2 separate regions of the Homo sapiens genome follow, and region 2 is linked to region 1. Evidence: fine-mapped expression QTL. Tissue or cell type: whole blood. Region 1 holds a variant in brackets; the other region holds the start of a gene. All regions are shown on one strand. Distances are from middle to middle.

Region 1 (10,769 bases):
TTGAGTCTTATATCCCATTTGTTGAGCAAATGCCAGAAATATTTTTACCTATAAATATTTCGATATAAGTAATTTTAAAAAATATAACACAATACCATTATCATATATAACTTAACAGCAATTCCTTAATATCTAATATAAAGTCTTAATGTCATCCCTTTTATTTCATTCAACAAGTAATATTGGAAAACAAGTATTTAGTTTATTTGGGATCAAGGAAGACTAACAAAAGGGTTTCTTCCTCCTTAGAGAAGTAGGAAGGAGGAGAACTAAACCAGCACTTATTTGGTATCTGCCTTTTGATAGGCATTCACCATCAGTTCCTATGGCAGGAGAGCCAAGACCAAACTATGCTGCTGACAAATTACAATATACTGTCTCAGAGATTTAAGCAAGAATTATCCTGCAGAATTAGATCCAAGGAGGTAAATGTTAGGCATGCATGGCCCATTGATTCTTGATCAGGTTGACCCTTGGACTTAGAAAGAAACAGCAATTACAGTAATTATGGGGAAGTTTGTTCTAAGTGCTATGCCTTATGTTTTTGCTTTTCAAGGGCTCAGATTTGCCTAACTATGCCATCCTTTTGTTCCTTAGGAGAATAAGCAGAGCTCTATGGGAGAGGCGGTTTAGCACAGTGGGTAGAAACTGACCGTGGGCTCAGACAGGATCTATCCTCAGCTTGCTCTCTGGAGGACTCTCTTCTATGAGAGCTGATCATGTGATGGGTTAAGAATAAGGCAGGTATTCTAATGACACATCCCACTTGTCTAGTGACAGTGGTGGTTGGTGTTGGGACATTTCAGAGAAGGTCATCATCCTGTTTTTTATAATCTGTTGAGAATTATTCACAACCCAGCTGATCCTTGGCACCTATGTGTAGAGAAATTTTAATGCACAGGGAACCCTCTTAAAAGATTTTTTAGACTATTATTATTTGTTAAGATTAAATATAAATGGCACATTGATGATGTTTAGAATTGGACCTGTTTCCTTTTGATGTTGTGCTGTAGTCTATTTATACATGTTCACCAAGACCCAGTTACTGTAATACAAGTGGACACCATGAAGTTTAACTGTTACAGTTCCCTGTAAGGGATTGGATAATTTACAGCATAAGATAACAACAGCTTTGTTCCAGCACTAGCTGTGTTGTTGCTGGAAATAAGTTTACTATTAGTCTATAGATTTCCTATTAATCAGCTTTATGATTTCATCCAAGAAGGATCTGTTGAGGGGGAAAAGAGGCAACGTGGTAAATGAATGCAAAGGATATCTCCTCATAACACAGAATTATCTCGTCCAAAATGTCAGCAGTATTGAGATTGAGAAACACTGAATTAGAATAATAAAACACAGTTCAACTCAAGGAAATGAAGCACCCACTCAGCATAATATATGAATCCCCTTTATTCACTTAGTAATAGGAGGGATGGTGCTATGATATTATTATTAAAAATGAGTGCAAATGTCATAGCTTATGCCTGTAATCCTGGTATTTTGGGAGGCTGAAGCAGGAAGATTACTTGACGCCAGGAGTTCAAGACCAGCCTAGCCAACATAGCAAGACCCTGTCTCTATTTAAAAAGACAGAAAGAGAGGGAGAGGGAGGAGAAGAAAGAAAAGAAAAGAAGAAAGAAAATAGATGCTTGATTGATAGACAGACAGATAGGGTTTGGATCTGTGTCCCTGCCCAAATCTCATATTGAATTCTAATCCCCATTGTTGGAGGTGGGGCCTGGTGGGAGGTGATTAGATCACGGGAGCAGTTTCTTATGAGTGGTTTAACACCATACCGCTTGGTGCAGTTCTTGTGATAGTTCTAATGAGATCTGATTGTTTAAAAGCATGTAGTACCTCCCACCTCTTTCTCTTTCTCCTGCTGTGGTCACGTGAAGTGCCTCGCTCCCCCTTTGCCTTGTGCCATGATTGTAAGTTTCCTGAGGCCTCCCCAGAAGCTGAGCAGATACCACTATCATGCTTCCTGTACAGCCTGCAGAACCATGATACAATTAAACTTCTTTTCTTTATAAATTACCCAGTCTCAGGTATTTCTTTATAACAGCGGGAGAAAGGACTGATACAGAAAATTGGTACTGAGGAGTGGGGCTTTGTTATAAAGATACCTCAAAATGTGGAAACAACTTTGGAACTGGGTAATGAGCAGAGGTTGGAAGAGTGTGGAGGGCTCAGAAGATGAGGAAAAATTTGGAACTTCTTAGAGACTGCTTGAATTGTGACCAAAATGCTGATAATGATGTGGACAATGAAACCCAGGCTGAGGAGGTCTCAGATGGAGATTAGAAAATTATTGGGGACTGGAGCAAAGGTCACTTTTGTTATGCTTTAGCAAGGAAGCTGGCTGCGTTGTGCCCCTGCCCTAGGGACCTGTGGAACTTGGAACTTGAATGGTGATGATTTAAGATATCTGGCGGAAAAATTATCTAAGCGACAAAGCATTGAAGATGTGGCCTGGTTGCCTCTAATAGCCTATCTCATATGTGTGAGCAGAGAAGTGACCTGAAACTGGAACTTAGACTTAAATGGGAAGCAGAGCATAAAGGTGAAAAATTTGTAGCCTGGCCATGTGGTAGAAAAGAAAAGTCCATTTCAGGAGAGGAATTCAGACAGGCTGCAGAAATTTGCATAAGTAAAAAGGAACCAAATGCTAATAGCCATGACAATGGGGAGAAGGCCTGGAAGGCATTTCAGAGACTTCACAGGAGCCCCTCCCTCACAGGCTCAGAGGCCTAGGAAGGAAGAATGGTTTTGTAGGTCAGGGCCAGGGTCAGGGCCCCACCACCCTGCACAGCCTCAGGACACTACTCCCTGCATCCCAGCCACTTTAGTTCCAGCTGTAGCTCAAAGGGGCCCAGGAAGAGCTCGGGACACTGTTTCAGAGGGTGCTAGCCACAAGCCTTGGTAGCTTCCATGTGGTGGTAAGCCTGTGGGTGCACAGAGTCCAAGAGTTGAGGCTTGGAAACCTCTGCCTAGATTTCAGAGAATGTATGGAAAACTTTGGATGTTCAGGCAGAAGCCTACTGCAGGGGTGGAGCCCTCACAGAGCACCTCTTCTAGGGCAGTGCAGAGGGAAAATGTAGGCTTGGTGCTCCACATAGAGTCCCCACTGGGGCACCACCTAGTGCAGCTGTGAGAAGATGACCACGTCCTCCAGACCCCAGAATGGTAGATACACCAACAGTTTGCACCCATCACTTGGAAAAGCCACAGGCACTCAGTGCCAGCCAGTGAGAGCAGTGGTGGGGTCTGAACCCTGCAAAGCCACAGTGGTGGAGCTGCCCAAGGCCTTGGGAGCACACCCATCACACCCCTGTGCCCTGGACGTGGGACATGGAGTCAAAAGATTATTTTGGAGCTTTAAGATTTGATGACTGCCCTGCTGGGTTTTGAACTTGTATGGCACCTATAGCCCCTTTCTTTTGGCCAATTTTTCGTTTTTGGAATGGGAGTATTTACCCAATGCCTGTGTCCCCATTGTATCTTGAAAGTAGCTAACTATTTATTTTACAGGCTCATAGGCAAAAGGGACTAATACATATATACATATATATATATAATGCTTCATTTCAAGCTGGGGGTGGTGGCTCACGCCTATAATCCCAGCACTTTGGGAGGCCAAGACGGGCAGATCACCTGAGGTCAGGAGTTCGAGACCAGCTTGACCAATATGGTGAAACCTCATCTGTACTAAAAATACAAAAATTAGCCGGGCGTGGTGGCTTGCGCCTGTAGTCCCAGCTACTCAGGAGGCTGAGACAGGAGAATTACTTGAATCAGGGAGGCGGAAGTTGCAGTGAGCTCAAATTGCACCACTGCACTCCAGCCTGGGTGACAGAGTGAGACTCCGTCTTAGAAAACAAACAAACAAACAAAAATGCTTCATTTCAGTGACACCCTGAGCTGGGAGGGAGTAAAGACTCATAGGCAAAAGGGACTAATACATGTATATAAAATGCTTCATTTCAGTGATACCCTGAGCAAGGAGGGAGTAAAGACTAGGAAGTACTGTTAGGAAGTGACACCACTTTTATTTTTGGAGCTGTCTCTGACCTGTGAATCCTACAGTGAATACTCTTAAATATTTTAGTATCTGTCCAGATGATATTGGTACCCAGATCCTTTAACTATACCTCTGATATTCCAACTGTTTTGCTCTTACCTGAATTTATGCTGCCTATCTTGAACTAGGATCTTAAATTTAAAATGGCACCCAAGACAACACTTTGAAGTTTATTTCCAAAGAGCATAAGAATAAAATGCCCTAGTCTTCCTAAACTAGGTGTTACTTAGCGGGAAGAATTTCTCAAGACAGGATCATAGAGAGAGAGAGTACTATCATATACTACATTAATAACACTAATATACAACCACATAGATATTTATTGTATACACAAGTAATACTTGGAAAATCTGGATTAAGTAAAAGTCGACAAATTTTTCTAACAGTTGCCCAAGCTATACCTGGGCCTTTTTGAGCTGCAGCTAGAGCTGGAGTGGCTGAGATACACAAGCAGTGTCCTGAGGCAACACAGGTGGTGGGGCCGTGGCCTGACCTACAAAACTGTTCTTCCCTCTTAGGGCCTCCAGGCCTGTGATGGGTTGGGCTCCTGGAAAGTCTCTGAAATGCCTAAAATTGGAATTGGCGGGGGATGCGTAACATCTCTTAACATACCATGGACTGATGTCTGTGTTATTTTGCTTACTCTCTTATTTCATGGTCACT[AT/A]TATATGTTGTGGTGGGTGCATGGAGACTGCTTTTTCTTTTTTAAGCTAAACTAAGAATGCCTCATAAGACTTTTCTTTTTTTCGGGTCAATTGTCTTTTTTTTTTTTTTTTTTAAGATTTTTTTGGGCCGGGCACAGTGGCTCACACCTGTAATCCCAGCACTTTGGGAGGCCGAGGCGGGCAGATCACAAGGTCAGGAGATCGAGACCATCCTGGCTAACATGGTGAAACCCTGTCTCTACTAAAAATACAAAAAATTAGCCGGGCGTGGTGGCAGGCACCTGTAGTGCCAGTTACTCAGGAGGCTGAGGCAGGAGAATGGCATGAACCCGGGAGGTGGAGCTTGCAGTGAGCCGAGATCGCGCCACTGCACTCCAGCCTGGGCGACAGAGCGAGACTCCATCTCAAAAAAAAAAAAAAAAAAAAAGGTTTTTGTAGAGACAGTGTCTCTCTTATGTTGCCGAGGCTTGTCTCAAACTCTTCGGCTCAAGCAGTTCTCCCACCTCGGCCTCCCGAAGTGCTGGGATTATGTCATGAGCCACCATGCCCAGCCTACCTAAGTCAGTTGTCTTTTTGACCAGAGCTTCCCAAATACTAATGTACACTTAAGAATTCTGTTAAAATGCAGATTCTGATTCAGTAGATCTGTGGTGTGGCCTGGGAGCTTGCATTTGTAACCAGTCCTCAACTAATGTAGATACTGCTGATCCAGGGGTCACACTCTGAAGAGATAGAGAGGCTGTAGAGGAGTCCAGTCTGTTCTATCACAGGACAATCAGGCAGAGTGCTGTCTCCTCCCATTTCCTCAGAGATGTTATTGCTTCAAACCATCTCATTATATTCACCCTTTCCTTCTCTATTGATTCTTGGCTCCCAGCATGTAATTAAGTTTCAACCATCTTATAAAATCCTTTCACTCCATTTCTCCTGGATGTTTTTCCTTCTGGCTTCTATTAAGAGCTGTCTCCATTTCCTTGTTCTTTTTCTCACCTGTCTTCATAGTCTGACTTCTTCCACCACGGCCAAGGTCATCCTGGTCTTCCTAAAAGCCACAACTAACAAATACTTTTCTGGGTTTTTGTTTGTTTGTTTGTTTTGGTATTTATTTTTACTTTTAGAAAAAGTTTATTATAAAAAAGTAATTGCATGAAAGAAAGCTTGCAAAATAGAGAATAAGTAAAAGAATAATAAAAACATATCATGCATAATATGTAAAGGCTAGAAGAAAATACACCAAAATGTTAACAGTAATGATGACTGTATAGGCGCCCAAAAAGCAAGAATTATACCTTTTTTTTTCTGCTTTTCTGTTCTTAGCTTAAACAGTCCTTTGGGAATATTTGATACTTTTGACTACTCTTCAGTAAACTTCTTTCTTAGCTCCATGACACCGTTTTCTTTCTTTTTCTCTTTCTCTCTCTCTCTCTGTGTCTCCCCGCCCCCGGTCCTGCTCCCTCTCCCTCTTCCTCTCCTTCTTCCTCTCCTTCTTCCTCTCCTTCTTCCTCTCCTTCTCCTCCTTCTCTCTCTCCTCTCTCTCCTTCTCCTTCTCCTTCTCCTCCTCTCCCTCCCTCCCTCCCTCTTCCTTTACCCCCACCCCACCTCACTGGCCTTCCCCAGATTTTTTTTACCAGTTCTTTGTTCCACTTTGAGATATCACCTAAGTCTGTTACTTCAGGTACCATTTTAGGCTGTATGTTCAGCTCCACCCTGACAGCTGCTGCCTAGACAGTTGTGCTGAGTGATCTTCACACCCTTCCGATTTAACACATCCAGCTGAACTGATAGCCCTTCTCTATTCTAGTCTACAGATCCTCTATTCTATAGTGTTCTTTCTCTTACCCCTTGACATTGATTTATTCAGTTAATACGTATCACTTTTCACCTGTTATTGTTTCTGCCTATTAAATATCTCTCCAAATTGTCTTCTGTCATAATTGTATCCTAATTGGACTTCCTGTCTTCATTTTTCAGTCCCTTACACTGTGACCTCTGGGATCTTTCTAAAAATGAAGGTTGAATGTCTCTCTCCAGTTTTATTAACCATGCAGTGGTTCCCCACAGCTTCAGCATCAAACTCCTTAGCTTGGCATGCAGGATGCTTTGATTGCCAACCCCTCACACCATATGCTCTCCATAGTAAACTAGGAGTCGATCAGCTTTACAGTGTTCTCTCCCCTTCTCCACAAAAAAGTATTCTCTGCACTTGAAATGCCCTTCCTTCCGACTTGATCCTCCAAGGGTATGGTTAAGTCTGATCCCTCCTCTGGAATGTGTTCCATGACACCAGCATGTCTTCCTTCTGCCACCAGCCACCACACACAACATCTGAATTGATAGACTTCTTCTTCTCCTTATTCCTGTGTTGTCCTGGGCATGAATTCACCTTAGTATGATATCATTGCACTTGTTTGTCATGTCGGCCCACCAAAAGGATTGAGTTCTTTAAAGACACAGACTCTTTTCATTTCTGCAACCCCCACATGGTAGATAACAAAAGTTTGGATGAGTAAGTATGTATTTGCTTCAACCATGTTCTTCTTCCTTCAGTCTTTCATTCTGGTTATGCTTTGGTCCCATTTGTTACATGTAGGTAGAATTCTGTCCTAAACCTTATCTTTGCCCAAGCATTTTAAAACATGAGATTTTAGAAAATCCAGGTGAGGCTGGGTATGGTAGCTCACACCTATACTCCCAACACTTAGGGAGGCCAAGGTGGGCAGATCACTTGAGGCCAGGAGTTTGAGACCAGCCTGGCCCGCATGGCAAAACCTCATCTCTACAAAAAAATAAAAAATTAGCCAGGCATGGTGGGACACGCCTGCTGTACTCCCAGCTATGAGGTAGGAGGATCACTTGAGCTCAGGAGGGCAAGGCTTCAGTGAGCTGAGATCATGCCACTGCACTCCAGCCGGGGCAACAAAGGGAGACCCTGTGTCTCAAAAAAAAAAAAAAAAAAAAAAAATCCAGACAAGCAAATTGGCCTCTCATCAGGTGCTTCTTCCTTCAGTAGCTGCCTGGAATCTTTGTGGTTTGAAAAGGCCTTTTTAGGTGGAGAGATGTTCATGTCATAATGGCAGGCTAGGTAAACCCCCACCCTTCCCAGAAGCCTTATGCTTATGCTGCTGAAGTATTTATGCTACTGAAGTACTAGATACCACCAAGACTATAGCTGAAAATACAACCAGCTAACCCTAAGACAGATTGCAGTAACCCACCAAGCCACCTAAACTGACAGGATAGATGAATTTCTATGTCCAGAGAGAACACATGACTTACTAAGACATTAGTAACTAGGAAGACTACCAGTTTCAAGTCCCCTTGCTAATACCTGCATTCTGTCTCAGTACTTGAAAGTCTGTAGACTTTATTTGCATTGAGGGACCATCTTGTCTTGGGCTTTGTTGTAACTGGTGGAATGAGTATTTTTATGTAGCTGTAATGAGGTTGTAAACTGAAGGCTTTGTTTCCCCCTTAAATCTATTCTGAGTGTTAAGCCCATGGATGCATACCACAAGACTTCAGTGGAAATCTGACCTGGCCTTCCTCAGCAGTTTTCCAGTATCCCTTGAGGATAGCTTAGTTTAATAAATATTTACCACTCTCCTCCACATTTTGGTAGACTTGGCTGACTAGCATCAGCTTCTTCACCTCTAATTTGGCCATCATCCCCGGAACTTCATAGATGATCCAAACTCTGACTTTGAAAGTTGCATCCATTTTCTGTACTTCTAAACCAGGGTGGCTAAACATTACCCAAGAAAATTATGCTAATAAATGCATGTCATATACTTACACACTCACATTTATCTGTAGCTTATATTCCCATATAAGTGCACAATTATATAGATCGCCATCTACCAAGAGTTTCCCACTTGTACGATGTATTAGAATTCCACGTGTCTAAAAGAAATTTTTCATTCCTTCCTTGAAAACTGATTTTCTTCCTTTTTAATTTATCTCAATTCATGGTATACCCTTTTATCTCATCACTTAAACCAAAAGCGGAGTCATCCATAAACATATCACCATTTTACTCTGTCACTTAAAGTCCTGTTAATTTCTTCACAACAGATATTAGGTTTGAGCTTTGCCATTCATTCTCGTTGCCACCATCTGACCTTTCTTTCTTGGGTCATTGCTCTGGACTCCTCAGTCTCCCTGTGGCCAGTATCGCCCCCTTGTGATTCATTCTCTAAACTCTCCTCTGATTTTGTCCCTCCCCTGCTTCCTACCTTTTCAGGGTTCCTCTGCCTATAGGGCCACATCTCTAACTTTATCTCACGTTCCTGGCCGTCCTCAGCTTCCAACAGAATTGAACTTAAAATCTGCTCCTCTGTCCAGAATGCCCTTCTTCCCCTCAGTTTTCCTAATATATGAGTGGGAGCTTACCTGTCTTTCAGGCCTTCACTTGCAGGGCTTTTCTCTCTCAGAAGTGGTCATGCTACCTTATTCATCTAAGCAACTGAAGGTTTTTCTTCTATGTTCGCATATTGGATGCATATCTATCCTATATACCACATCCTTGAGATGTAAGGTATTCATATTTATCTGAGTGTCCTCAGTGCCTGGTACAAATCAAGCACTCAGGAAATGCTTATTAAATGGAAGAACTAAATTGCTAAGGAATTAAACATTTTTGTGTTACCTCTGACAGAAAGTAGGAACAGGAAATTCTTTTTTTAATTGAAAACATTTTAATATTTACTTTTGAATATAAATAAGCATTCTAAGAATAACTTGGAGTAAAATTTTTCTTTATGAGCTAAGTTTAAATCCACTTGAATTACAAAACGTCAGTCATTGGTTCAGTATACTCAGTACTGAAGAGTAAAATGCTGCAATATTTATGATTTTTAAAACTATTAAGTTTACATAGAAAACCAATTATTAATCTGCATTGCGCAGCTGTTGCTATGTTATGCTGCAGCAACAAACCCTAAAATAAACAACTATTTTTTTTTAAGTTCTGGGATACATGTGCTGAACATACAGGTTTGTTCCATAGGTATACATGTGCCATAGTGGTTTGCTGCACCTATCAACCTGTCATCTAGGTTTTAAGCCCCACATGCATTAGGTATTTGTCCTAATGCTCTCCCTCCCCTTTTCCCCAACCTCCCTACAGGTCCCAGTGTGTGATGTTCCCCTCCCTGTGTCCATGTGTTCTTATTGTTCAACTCCCACTTATGAGTGAGAATATGCAGTGTTTGGTTTTCTAGGAACAGGAAATTCTTAAATGCCATATTCCCCAAACCTTTCTAATCAAATAGTTCTAGTTTCTTCCCCTCTTCAGTTTCCTGCTAAAATTAAGATGTGTTTAGGCTCCCTACTTTCCTTTAATTAGCATTGATACTGGTGATACTAATTTTTGTAAAGGGTAGGAAAGAGACAAAAGATGTAAATAATACAAATTTTATATACTTCCAAAAATAATCCTAGAAATCCAATATAATTTCTAGCTAAAAGGGTTTTAAAGGATGTAGGAAGTATATGCTTTTTATGTTCATTTTTAACTGCAACATAAAACAAATGAAAATTCCTTTGACTTGTATTAAAGATAGCTGATCCTAATAAAGGAAAGATATATGTAGTGAGAAGACTATTAGATTCTAATCCTGCGTCTGCTGTAATTATGTGTGGTCTTGGGCAAGTCGTTTCTCCTTTTGCAGCTCAGTCATATCTACAAAATGAGAAAATTATAGATTGTAGATTTAGCAATGGCCCTTTTCCTTCTAGTGAAACACAGAGAAACTGTATGAGAGAAGTAACACCACAACAGCTCTACTTTGGAACTGGTGATGCTATAGAAAGAGGCGGGGAAGAGGCAGAGGTTCTCCCTCCACAGGGCTGTCCCTACTCCATCTCATTCCAAAAGGTGGCCCCTGCAGAATTGCCTTGAAATACAGTTTAAAAGCCACTATTGGATGATATACGAGTTTTTCTTCACTGACCCGAAATCAGATAGAATCACAGAATTTGAAGAAGTTTCTTAAACTCCCTAATATGAAATTCTAGTCTGCTGT
Region 2 (10,769 bases), 91 kb before region 1:
CTGGTCTTGAATTCCTGGACTTAAGTGATTCTCTCACCTCAGCCTCCCAAAGTGCTGGGTTTACAGGTGTGAGACAGCATGCCTGACCAAATAGTTATATTTTTAATGCAGTATTTTATAAAATTGGCTTATTGTTATCCCAATATTCATTGTTTCTGTTCCATACACTTATATGAGTACTTTCTATTACTAATGACCAGTCCATTGGTATAAAGAATAGCCTACATATAAAAGAAACTTTTTTCTCCCACCTACACACACTTTGACTGAGGATGTGAATTTGCTGTCACTAATTTTTGACTCTTCAAGTAGCTTTCTGAAGGATGAGCAGAACGGAATGGAAAAGAGAAAACAGTCACTTCTGGCTTCAACATGGAACCAGATTATTGAACCAGAAACAATGAATATTTGGATAATAATAAGCTAACCAGAAATAGGTCATGAGTGGAAAAGCAAAACAAGAAATATTACTAAGAATGTTATCCAACTAGACTAGAAATGGCATATCAAGTAGATGAGAAAAACCAAGTACAATAAGGAGGGTTGTTGAAGCACCTGGAATGACTACGCTAAGACAATAGCTATAAAAGATAATGCCCTTGAAGACCCAGCTTAAAAGACTCTCCCTCTGCAAAACCTACCCTCATTTCACCCCCAAAAAATTGTACTCTCTAAAATAATAGAGCTCCTCTCCTGTAGCCTTCATCAGGCCAAAGTTATTTATGACTTAGCACAAGACAACTCTCCTTTAAGGCAGGGTCCTTGTTGGGCTCATTTAACTCCTATGGTTTTTTTTGTTTGTTTGTTTTTAGAGACTGAGTCTCATTCTGTCGCCCAGGCTGGAGTGCAGTGGCACAATCTCAGCTCACTGCAACTACCCCCGAGTTCAGGTGATTCTTCTGCCTCAGCCTCCCAAGTAGCTGGGACTACAGGTGCGTGCCACCATGCCCAGCTAATTCTTGTATTTTTAGTAGAGATGGGATTTTGACATGTTGACTAGGCTGGTCTCAAACTCCTGACCTCAGGTGATCCACCTGCCCCGACCTCCCAAGGTGCTGGGATTACAGACATGAGCCACTGCGCCCAGCCTCCTGTGGTTTTTTGTTTTTTGTTATTGCCAGTTGTGAGAGTTGGGGCAGAGGGAGAGATATATTTCCTTTGCAGCTACAGTTCTTATTAACAGGTTGAAGGTGGAGGAGGACAAGGAGGAGAGGAAAGGAAGGGGGAAACAACCTCAATGTTTAAGAAGTGTCCTCTGTGTGCTTGACATAGTGCTAGACATTTTATATATGTCATCTCAGAGGGGAAACTAAGGCTTAGAGCATTTAGTAATCTATCAAAGATCACTCAACTGATGTTGAGTGGTAAAGTCAGGATTTGAATCTAATTATTTCTTCTTCCAAAACTGGTACTGAGTTCCGGTGTGGTGGTTCACACCTGTAATCCCAGCACTTTGGGAGGCCAAGGCAGGTGGATCACTTGAGGCCAGGAGTTTGAGACCAGCCTGGTCAACATGGCAAAACCCCATCTCTACTAAAAATACAAAAATTAGTCGGGTATGGTGGTGTGCACCTACAGTCCCAGCTACTTGGGAGGCTGAGGCATGAGAATCGCTTGAACTCAGGAGGTGGAGCTTGCAGTGAGCTGAAATCGCACCACTGCACTCTAGCCTGGGTGACAGAGAGAGACTTTTTCTAAAAAACAAACAAACAAACAAACTGGTACTGAGTTTAAGTATTTGCTGGAAAATTAGTTCTGTTATGGTACTTGGAGATGGCTGAAGGAAGGCATTTCACAATTGTTCTTAATTATTTCTGGGTCATGGAAGAATCTCTCCCATAAAAGTGTACATGTGCAAATATATACATCATTATCAGTTTTGCATACCATTTCAGAAGGAGTGGCTAAGGAACCATGGAAACCAAGGCAAAAACCTCAAGATTACAGTATTCCCAACCACCTTCTCCCATTCCACTCCACCCTATCCCTCTTCCCAAAGCCTGAGAGTAATTAAAACCAAAGAAAATATAAACATGAAAGTTTAGTTGGGAGAAGCAAATGCAAACTTCTAATATAGTATTGTACTCAAAAATGTCATGGAGAACTTGATTAGGAGACACTGAAGAATGTAGTGCTACAATCTTGAAATTTCACAGTTATGACCTTCAGACCATATATGATGTAAGGCTGAGAGACAGAGTTACCACAACACATCCTAAGAGACTGAAAATAGCCGAAAATCAAACTGAATGGAAAATTCCAGGAAGTATACTATATTTAATGGAAGAGAGGTTTATTTCTGTTATTTTGTCTGGGGGACTTTTCTTGAAAAATATGTTTGGATTTTTATGGGCTAAAGAAAATGTTTTAAATGAGGTTTATGTGATTTTTATTTATACCCTGTATTTTTTCGAAGATTTAAGAGATTATAGGTTTATAGAAAATATAACAAAATATTATGAATCATACATAGGAAAAAAGGTAGAGACATAAAATAGAGCCAGGAACAAACTTAATTTTAAACCATGAATTTATATAGTGATTAGGCCTTTAGTTCCTCAAGTTAATTTCTTTTTTTTCTTTTTAATTTTCTGTAGAGACAGGATCTCACCATGTAACCCATGCTGATCTTCTTGAACTCCAAGGCTCAAGGGATCCTCCAGACTTTGCCTCCCAAAGTGTTGGAATTACATGCATGAGCCACCGCACTCAGCCCCTCAAGTAATTTCCAAAAATTATGCAGTGCAAAGAGTTTTATGTATTAGGTATACATTTTTCATAATTTACACAGTATTTTCACATACATTATCTCATTTGATCCTAAATGGACTTTGTTAAGCAGTTATTATCCACATATTCCAAATAAGGAAACTGAAGCCCAGAGAAGAACTTGAAAATCCTGTTCTTCAAGGTGGGAGAATTGCTTGAGGCCAGTAGTTCAAGACCAGCCTGAGTAACAGAGGGAGTCTCCATCTCTCCAAATAATAATAATAATAATAAATGATATAGGCGTGGTGGCATGTGCCTGTGATCCCAGCTACTCAGGAGGCTGAGGCAGGACAATCACCTGAGCCCAGGAAGTCAAGACAGCAGTAAGCCATGACTGGGTCACTGTACTCCAGCCTAGATGACAGAGCAAGACCTCCTCTCAATCAATCAATCAATCAATCAGAACAATATGCATTTGACATCTATGGCCCCTGCATTTTCACGAGAGGATTACTACCTTCTTTACAGATGGCTTTAGATTTGGAGGCTGGCTAAGCATAAAATTAAAAGACGTCATGCTTGGAATAGCCCTTTTAAGAAACACTTAACTCCTTTACTTAATAGACAAGTGCACTGAACCACTCATAATTTTTTAAATTATTTTTATTTTAATAATTATTTTATTTATTAAGACACAAGGTCTCAATCTATAGCCCAAGCTGGAGTGCAGTCGCACCATCCTAGCTCACTGCTGCCTCAAACTGCTTGGCTCAAGCTATCCTCCCTCTTCAGCCTCCCAAGTAGCTGGGACCGCAGGCACAAGCCATCGCAACCTGTGCTCTGAAGCTTTAAGAGGCCAAACGATTCCTCACATTCATCCGATCAGTTACAGGTAGAGCCAAGACCAGAAGCCAGGTATCCTATTTTCCTTATAACACATTGCCTCTATAGCTTTATATCCATTTCTATGATTTTTGTTACATACCCAGTTCTGACCATTTCCTGTCACAATTTCCTTTGTCTACTAAGTAAAGTTCTAAATGCATGGTGACATAACATACAAGGCCCTACATAACCTGGCACAAGAGACCTCTCCAGGTACTCTCCTCCTCTAACAGTGTAGGAATACTCCTGACTCCTAGGATGCCAGGCATTTGTATAACATCCTAATAGAGTTGTGCTGGTGAAGGAAGGCCACATCCCTCTATCTTGTGAGAGTGAAGACTTGAGTTTCTCCATCACCAAGGAAGACTTGGGTGAAGGCACTCAAGTGGGAGGGACAAAATGACATCTGAAAACTGGAGGCCTTGGGCAGGGACCTCCCCTTCCTCAAACTAAAGGTGAATGAACCAAATTTTGCGATTCCAGGTAGCTTTTCATGTCAAATTTTCATGTCAAATTCTTCCGTGCCATCTCTGACCCTTTAGTAAAATCCCCTCCAAATATTCCAGAAAAACCTTGTGAGTTCATATTTGGCAAGGCCATCCAAAGCATGTTAGCAACCCAGCATGATGGTGTCAGTACTAATTACATAATGAGAGGCCCCAAAGAGAAGAGTATTAGGCAACAGGAACGAGGGCCACTAAATCCCAATCGCTTTTCCCCAGCAATGATTCTCCTTCAATATGAGGTTATGGGTTATGAGGATATGAGTTAGTCAATTAGCTTCCTTATGCAACTTCAAATTCCCTGAACAGATCCAGGAATTTTGCACATTCTGTTCCTTGTCCATAAACTTTGGTTCCCCTCCCCAAACTGTTGTTCTTTCGACAAACTCTATACATAATTCATATTCCTGGCTCAGAAATCATAATCTCTAAGTAACCTTTCCTGACACCCTATTCTCCACCTCCTCTTCCATAACCTGTGGTCTTTTTGAACAGAGTGGTGACATTTTGGGCTGGATGACTGAAAAAGCAAAGTAGAAAAACAGAACATAGAACATACAGGGCCTCCAGTTGCTGTGCCTGGCGGTACATGAAACATAGTATTCAATAACTATTCTTTGAATGCACAGTCATTTTGTTTTTTCCTTTAACAGTATTTCCTAATAGGTAACTCATGAACACTGCAAAAAATGTCAAACTGCACAAAAAAATTCAGGGAAAAGTACATTTTCCCCCCAATCCCATTCCCTCCTTTCTCTTAATACCAGTTAGCTTTCCTTTCAGATTGATTATGCATATATGGGTATGTAAATGTTTTCCCACTATTTGTTACACATAAAAATTATATACAATTCATATATTACATATGGTGCATGTTATATACACACACATAAACAGATCATCTCGGTTTTGCTTAACCTAAGTCAGGCTTTTTTTTTTTTTTTTTTTTTAGAGCAGCCCTCAGAACCAGGACAGGTTCAGAGACTTTATTTATTTTTTATTTACTATTATTATTTTGAGACGGAGTCCCGCTCTGTCGCCCAGTCTGGAGTGCCGTGGTTCAATCTCGGCTCACTACAACCTCCACCTCCCAGGTTCAAGTGATTCTCCTGCCTTAGACTCCGAGTAGCTGGGATTACAGGCGAGCACCACCACGCCCGGCTAATGTATTTTTAGTAGAGACGCGGTTTCGCCATGTTGGCCAGGCTGGTCTCGAACTCCTGACCTCAGGTGAGAGCAACGTAGTACTCCACTGTGCGTGCATACCATGATTTACTTTGCAGTCCCAGATTTACGGTTTCCAATTTATAAATACTGCCATTTTCACCTTCAAGCCCCGATGCCAAACACAGAAATACCAGGCCACCCCCACCCCCTCGCCGTGTGCCTCCCACATTTTCACACACATTTTCAGGAGCCCAGGGCGCAGCCTCACACCGAACGCCGCCTCTGCCGTCCCCTCACTTGCCCCGTGCCCCCACCGCAGGGCTGAAGGCGACGGAACCGAGCCTTTGTACCCCCACCAGCCCCGTTCCCTGGCGTCTCCCGGCCGCCGGGCTCGCCCGCTCAAACGTGGCGGAACAACCGGAGCCGGGCCCCGCCCTGCTGGAAGACAGGGCGGACCGGGCAAGGCAGGCGCGGGGCGGGGCGGGGCGGGGCTCCGGCTGGCGGGGCGCGGCCAGCGTGCAGGGCTGGGCCAGCGTGCGGGGCTCCTCCCCTTTCCTCCGGCGGCGCCGGCGGCCGCAGAACTTCCGGGTCGGCGCGGAGGCGGGGCGGAGGCGCCGCGGCGGCTGTTATTGTTCGGCTGGGCTCGGTCGGGCGCTGTCTCCCTCGGCTCTGCGGGTGTCAGTTCGTCCGGCTTCCTCACAGCCCCTCACTCCCGGCGGCTGACAGCAGCAGCGGCGGCGGCGGGCGGCGCCTGGCGTTTCGAGGCTGAGCGGCACCGGGGTTGGGGCGCGGAGGAGGAGCAGCAGCGGGAGGAGGAGCCGTGTGCCCTGGCACTGAGCGGCCGCGGCCATGGCGTACGCCTATCTCTTCAAGTACATCATAATCGGCGACACAGGTGAGGGCCCCGGGCGCGGCCGGGCGGGTGTCGGCGGCCTCCGGACCCGGGCTGAGGGGCAAACGGCGTCTGGCGGTGGCGGGGACGCGGACTCCACCCGGCGCCTCCCTCCTGGCCGCGCCGCTCCATTTCCGCAGTGCTGGAGCTGGTGACGTGGGCACTGCGAGCGGCCGCGGCCTGGCCAGGCCCGGTCTGCGGCCCCCGACCCGGCCAGTCTTGCAGCTGAGGGCCGTGGCAGCCGTTTGCGACGCCCGATTCAGGAAGTGTGTGACAGGAGGGGAGGCCTAGCGCAGGGCCGCCGGGGCCCGACTCACATGACTGCACCCCACCCCCAGGGCCCCTTGCGTTAGGTCTCTTCGCGGCCCCAGGAAAAAGAAGGAGGGAAACCTAGGGGAGCAGAAGGTGTTGGGGCCCGGGTCTTGGTTCCTGACCAGTCCAACCTTCCTCCACCAGCACGCATCTATCAAGGCCTGGGCAAGGCGCTTTTTGGCGTGGGACAGGCAGCCGAGAAAGAGAAAAGGAAACCTTTAAAATATGTATTTTATATATATACATATATATAAAATATGCTTTTTTAACACCTTCAACTCTCACGTCAGAATAAGTCACATCTCATTACTTGACGGCTGGAGAATCCCTTTCGGGGTTAGGAAAGCATGAACGAGTTCTGTGGACTTTTGCCACGTGTGAACTGGGGTTATATAGTAATGTAAAGTCGTTCAGTGCTCTGGGTGTGTACTTAGGTATGTGTATGTTGAGGACGCTGATGTTTTAGATATGTCAAGTCCGGTGTCACAACTGCTAATTTTCAGGTGAGCTCATGTCCATGAGCTGAAAGAAATTCAGTTATTCTCACTTAAAATGACGTCCTAGTATATTTCACAGAAAAGTAAACAGACTCTTCGTAGATATTTTTAATACCTGTGATTTGGCATTACTTTGAATCTAATAATAAACATAAAGATTGTTTAGATGTTGCAACTATTAATATACCAGAGTCTGATTTCAGTGGTTACTCTTGCACAACTTTGGACCCTTTGCACAACTTCGGTCATGTAAGCAGCAGTTTGTAGTTGAACTAATGATGTGGCAGGTTCTATAAGTAACTAAAGAAGCATGTTGGCCGGACGCGGTGGCTCACACCTGTAATCCCAGCACTTTCGGAGGCCGAGGTGGGGGATCACCTGAGATCAGGAGTTCGAGACCTGCTTGGCCAACGTGGTGAAACCCCGTCTCTACTAAAAGTACAAAAGTTAGCCGGGCGTCGTGGCAGGCGCCTGTAATCCCAGCCACTTGGGAGGCTGAGGCGGGAGGATCACTTGAGCCCGGAAGGTGGAGTTTGCAAAAAAAAAAAAAAAAAAAAAAAAAAAGCATATTTATTGCTGCCTGAAAGAAAAAATTTCTGCTAGATACATGAGTTTTCAGCAAGGTTTTCTGATGCGTGCGTGCGTGTGTGTGTGTGTGGAAATTGGATTTGTAAACTTTAAAAGAAAAATGCTGTGGTGTATTTGGAAGAAGGAGAATTCTAAAGTCTTCTGGCAAAATTTCATTTAGGCTGTAAAAACAAGATTGGAGAGGAATGCCACATTAACTGTAATATGAGTGGGTTTGAGAAATAGAAGCTTGTGACTGTGGCATTTGGCTATCTCATTAGTGGTGAAAATTCAAATCAGACTTTGCTGGTTGCCTTTTTTCAGTTTTTTATTTGAGGCTGTACTGTGGATAAATAAAGTATTGTGCATGGAGTAGTGGGGCTACAAATCCTAACAAGTTAATGCTCTGTTCTCTTGGAATTTGCTCTTATCCAAAAGCAGTCCCCACGCAATTCAAAGGGAAGACACTTCTTTCTTGTCATTGCTGCTGATACGACCTAGTTCAGGAACAGAATTCTTGACACTGTTATAGTCTGCAGCAGTACTTCTCCCTACTCCAGTTCAGCCAGTGTAGTTTACTGTCAGTTTAGTCATCCTGAAGCATGAATGTCAAAAGGCTACTCCTGTTTGCTCACAATTTTTAGTTTGACCTTCAGTGAACTCTATATTTTAGCCCCTATCTACATTTCTCGCCTTCTTTCCCGCTATTCCCCACCTTGCTTCTGCCATTGAGTCCCAGTGACTGATTTTGGTGTTTTTTTCCTGGGCACTGCTAGTCTCTATTCTTAGAGTGCTTTCCGGCACAATCTCTCCCTGTGGAAGATCCATCAGTCCTTCAAAGTCTTATCTGAGTTTTCCGTAATGCCTTCACAGTCAACATATATTAAGCTCTTATTGTGTGAAGATTTTCACAGTATCCTGGCTGAAAGTGACTACTCCGTTTCTGAATTTATGTTTCTCACTTTGTGTCATTCTTCTGATATTGATCCCAGACTTTTCTGTTGTATAGATACTTGTATAGGCACCTCTATTATGTAGGTACCTATTATATACTTCTTGAAGTCAGAAAAGATGTTTTGTATGGCTCTGTATTTCTTTCAGGAAGAGCGTAGTAGAAGGTAGGCCCTGTATATTTAACTAATAAGAGAGGAGCCAAACAGGCTACTATATTCCTGTTTGTATATATTAATAACTTAACAGAAGTGGTGTCGTTGTTGTTGTTGTTGTTGCCCAGTTCTGCCACCTTCTTGCTTACTAATTTGGGCAAAATCCTTTACCATATTTCTTTAATGCAGAGTGTACCCATAGTTGTAAGATACACTCAGTGTGGCCCTCCCCTAGAAAAGATGACTTTAAAATCAGTAATGTGAGATCCACTTTGATTTTTTAAAAAGTCAGGGTCAAAAACATGCATCTTAGAATGAAGGAAATCACCTAATTTTTCTGTTTCCCTGTTTCCGTAACCTATAACCTTCTCTCAGTATGTGGGATAAAATGAGGATAAATGTGAAAGTACTTTGATTTCTCAAAGGAAAGGAACAATGCACATTTTTCCTTTTCAGAATTCCCTCTTTAATAGAAGAGGTTTTAAAAACTTTTACATGATCATGATGATACTATTGAGCTGTTTTCTTACTGTAAGACTAAATGCAGTTAAAATGTAGCTTTAAATTTTTTCCTTGTTCCTGTCTTGTTTCTGAATCATTTAGTAAAATGTGTCATTTAAATCTAGATGTAAAGTGGAAAGTGGTTTTTAATAAGCAGTTAATTATCAAGCATGGAGAGAAAAAATACGAATCTATAGTAATTTTTCTTCTGAAATTCTAGCATCTGCCAACCATTTTAACCTTATCACTAACCCTCCCTGCTGCTCAACGCTCAGCAAGGTAAACAAAGGCACAGGTTTGGTTGTGTTCTTATTTCTGCTAATATCTGAAGCACTCCTTCTTGTTCTTCCCTATCAAAAAAAGTTATGTCAAAAATTTTTGTCACCTGGCCAACTCCTTTTTATCCATTCTTTTGAGAGTTTAACAAATCCTACCACTCCCTGTTGCATTTTATGCTGGTCCCCTCCTCTCTTCCCTCATTCTGTTTCCCTTCTCTTCAGTCCCAGTCCCACTTACATTTTATTTTTTATTTTTCACTCTTATGTATATACCCACCACTTCCATTTTATTTTATTTTACTTATATTATTTATCTATCTATTGAGACATGATCTCTGTTGCCCAGGCAGGAGTGCAGTGGCACTATCACGGCTCACTCACTACAGCTTCAGTCTCCTGGGCCTAAGCAATCCTCCCACCTAAGTCTTCCAAGTAGCTGGGAACACAGGCACATGCCACCATGCCTGGCTAATTTTTAAATTTTTGTAGAGATGGGCTCTCACTGTGTTGCTCAGGCTGGTCTCAAACTCCTGGGCTTAAGCCATCCTCCCACTTCAGCCTCCCAAAGTGCCAGATTACAAGCACAAGCCACAGCTCTCAGCCCCACTTGCATTTTAAATTATCTTTTTAGTTAGGAAGGTCTTTGCCTTTGTCTTAGATGCCAGGGTACACCATTGAGTGTCAGATTTATTTAATAGTTAAGTGGATGGATCCTTGAGGGGAGGCACTAGGTGATGTTTCAGCTGAAATTAGAATGATGAGTAGGCACCGCCAGAGTGGGCATGGGGGAATGTCTGGTATGTAGTTGAAAGTTTATTTCTGGCTCAGGAGAGAGTAATCTGGGATAGAGACTTGGGAGCTAATAACATAAAATGGAGTCCCTATTACCTGAGAGTTCATTTTCTGAGCTTTTGAAATTACAAGGTTATGTAGGGAAGAAAAATTCTCATGATATGAAAATAATTATTAATAAGTTATCACCTTAAAAAATTAACTACTCAAGCTTACTTCTAATTCCCATCCTCCTGATTGGCGTAGGGGCTTGCTGATCATAATATAGTTCAAATTAGTTGCAAAGTGAAATTATGTATCATGCTAAAATTGCAAGCATTTGTTTCTTTTTTTTGAGATGGAGTTTTGCTCTTGTCACCCAGGCTGGAGTGCAGTGGCGCCATCTGGGTTCACTGCAACCTCCACCTCTTAGGTTCAAGCGATTCTCCTGCCTCAGCCTCCCCAGTAGCTGGGATTACAGGCGTCTGCCCCCACGCCCAGCTGATTTTTGTATTTTTAGTAGAGATGGAGTTTTGCCATGTTGGTCTGACTGGGTCTCGAACTCCTGACCTCAGGTGGTC

What was found. PIP is the estimated chance that this variant, and not a neighbour inherited with it, causes the effect.
Region 2: it holds the start of RAB2A, and the variant in region 1 is fine-mapped to the expression of RAB2A in whole blood (INTERVAL, PIP above 0.99).

The regions. Positions count from the first base shown.
Region 1 is chr8:60,602,277-60,613,045 of GRCh38, forward strand. The region is part of intron 6 of RAB2A (RAB2A, member RAS oncogene family); the gene reads left to right. Among named protein-coding and RNA genes, the nearest start is that of CHD7, 71 kb to the right of the region's middle. The variant AT/A (reference allele first, on the strand shown) is at 4,745.
Region 2 is chr8:60,511,095-60,521,863 of GRCh38, forward strand. RAB2A (RAB2A, member RAS oncogene family) reads left to right here and starts at 5,893. Exons shown (of 8, transcript NM_002865.3): 1 at 5,893-6,159. The coding sequence starts at 6,114. It overlaps LOC124901949 (a long non-coding RNA gene), which reads left to right. Exons shown (of 3, transcript XR_007060922.1): 3 at 2,598-5,704. RefSeq lists enhancers at 5,041-5,901, 7,137-7,326 and a silencer at 5,477-6,346.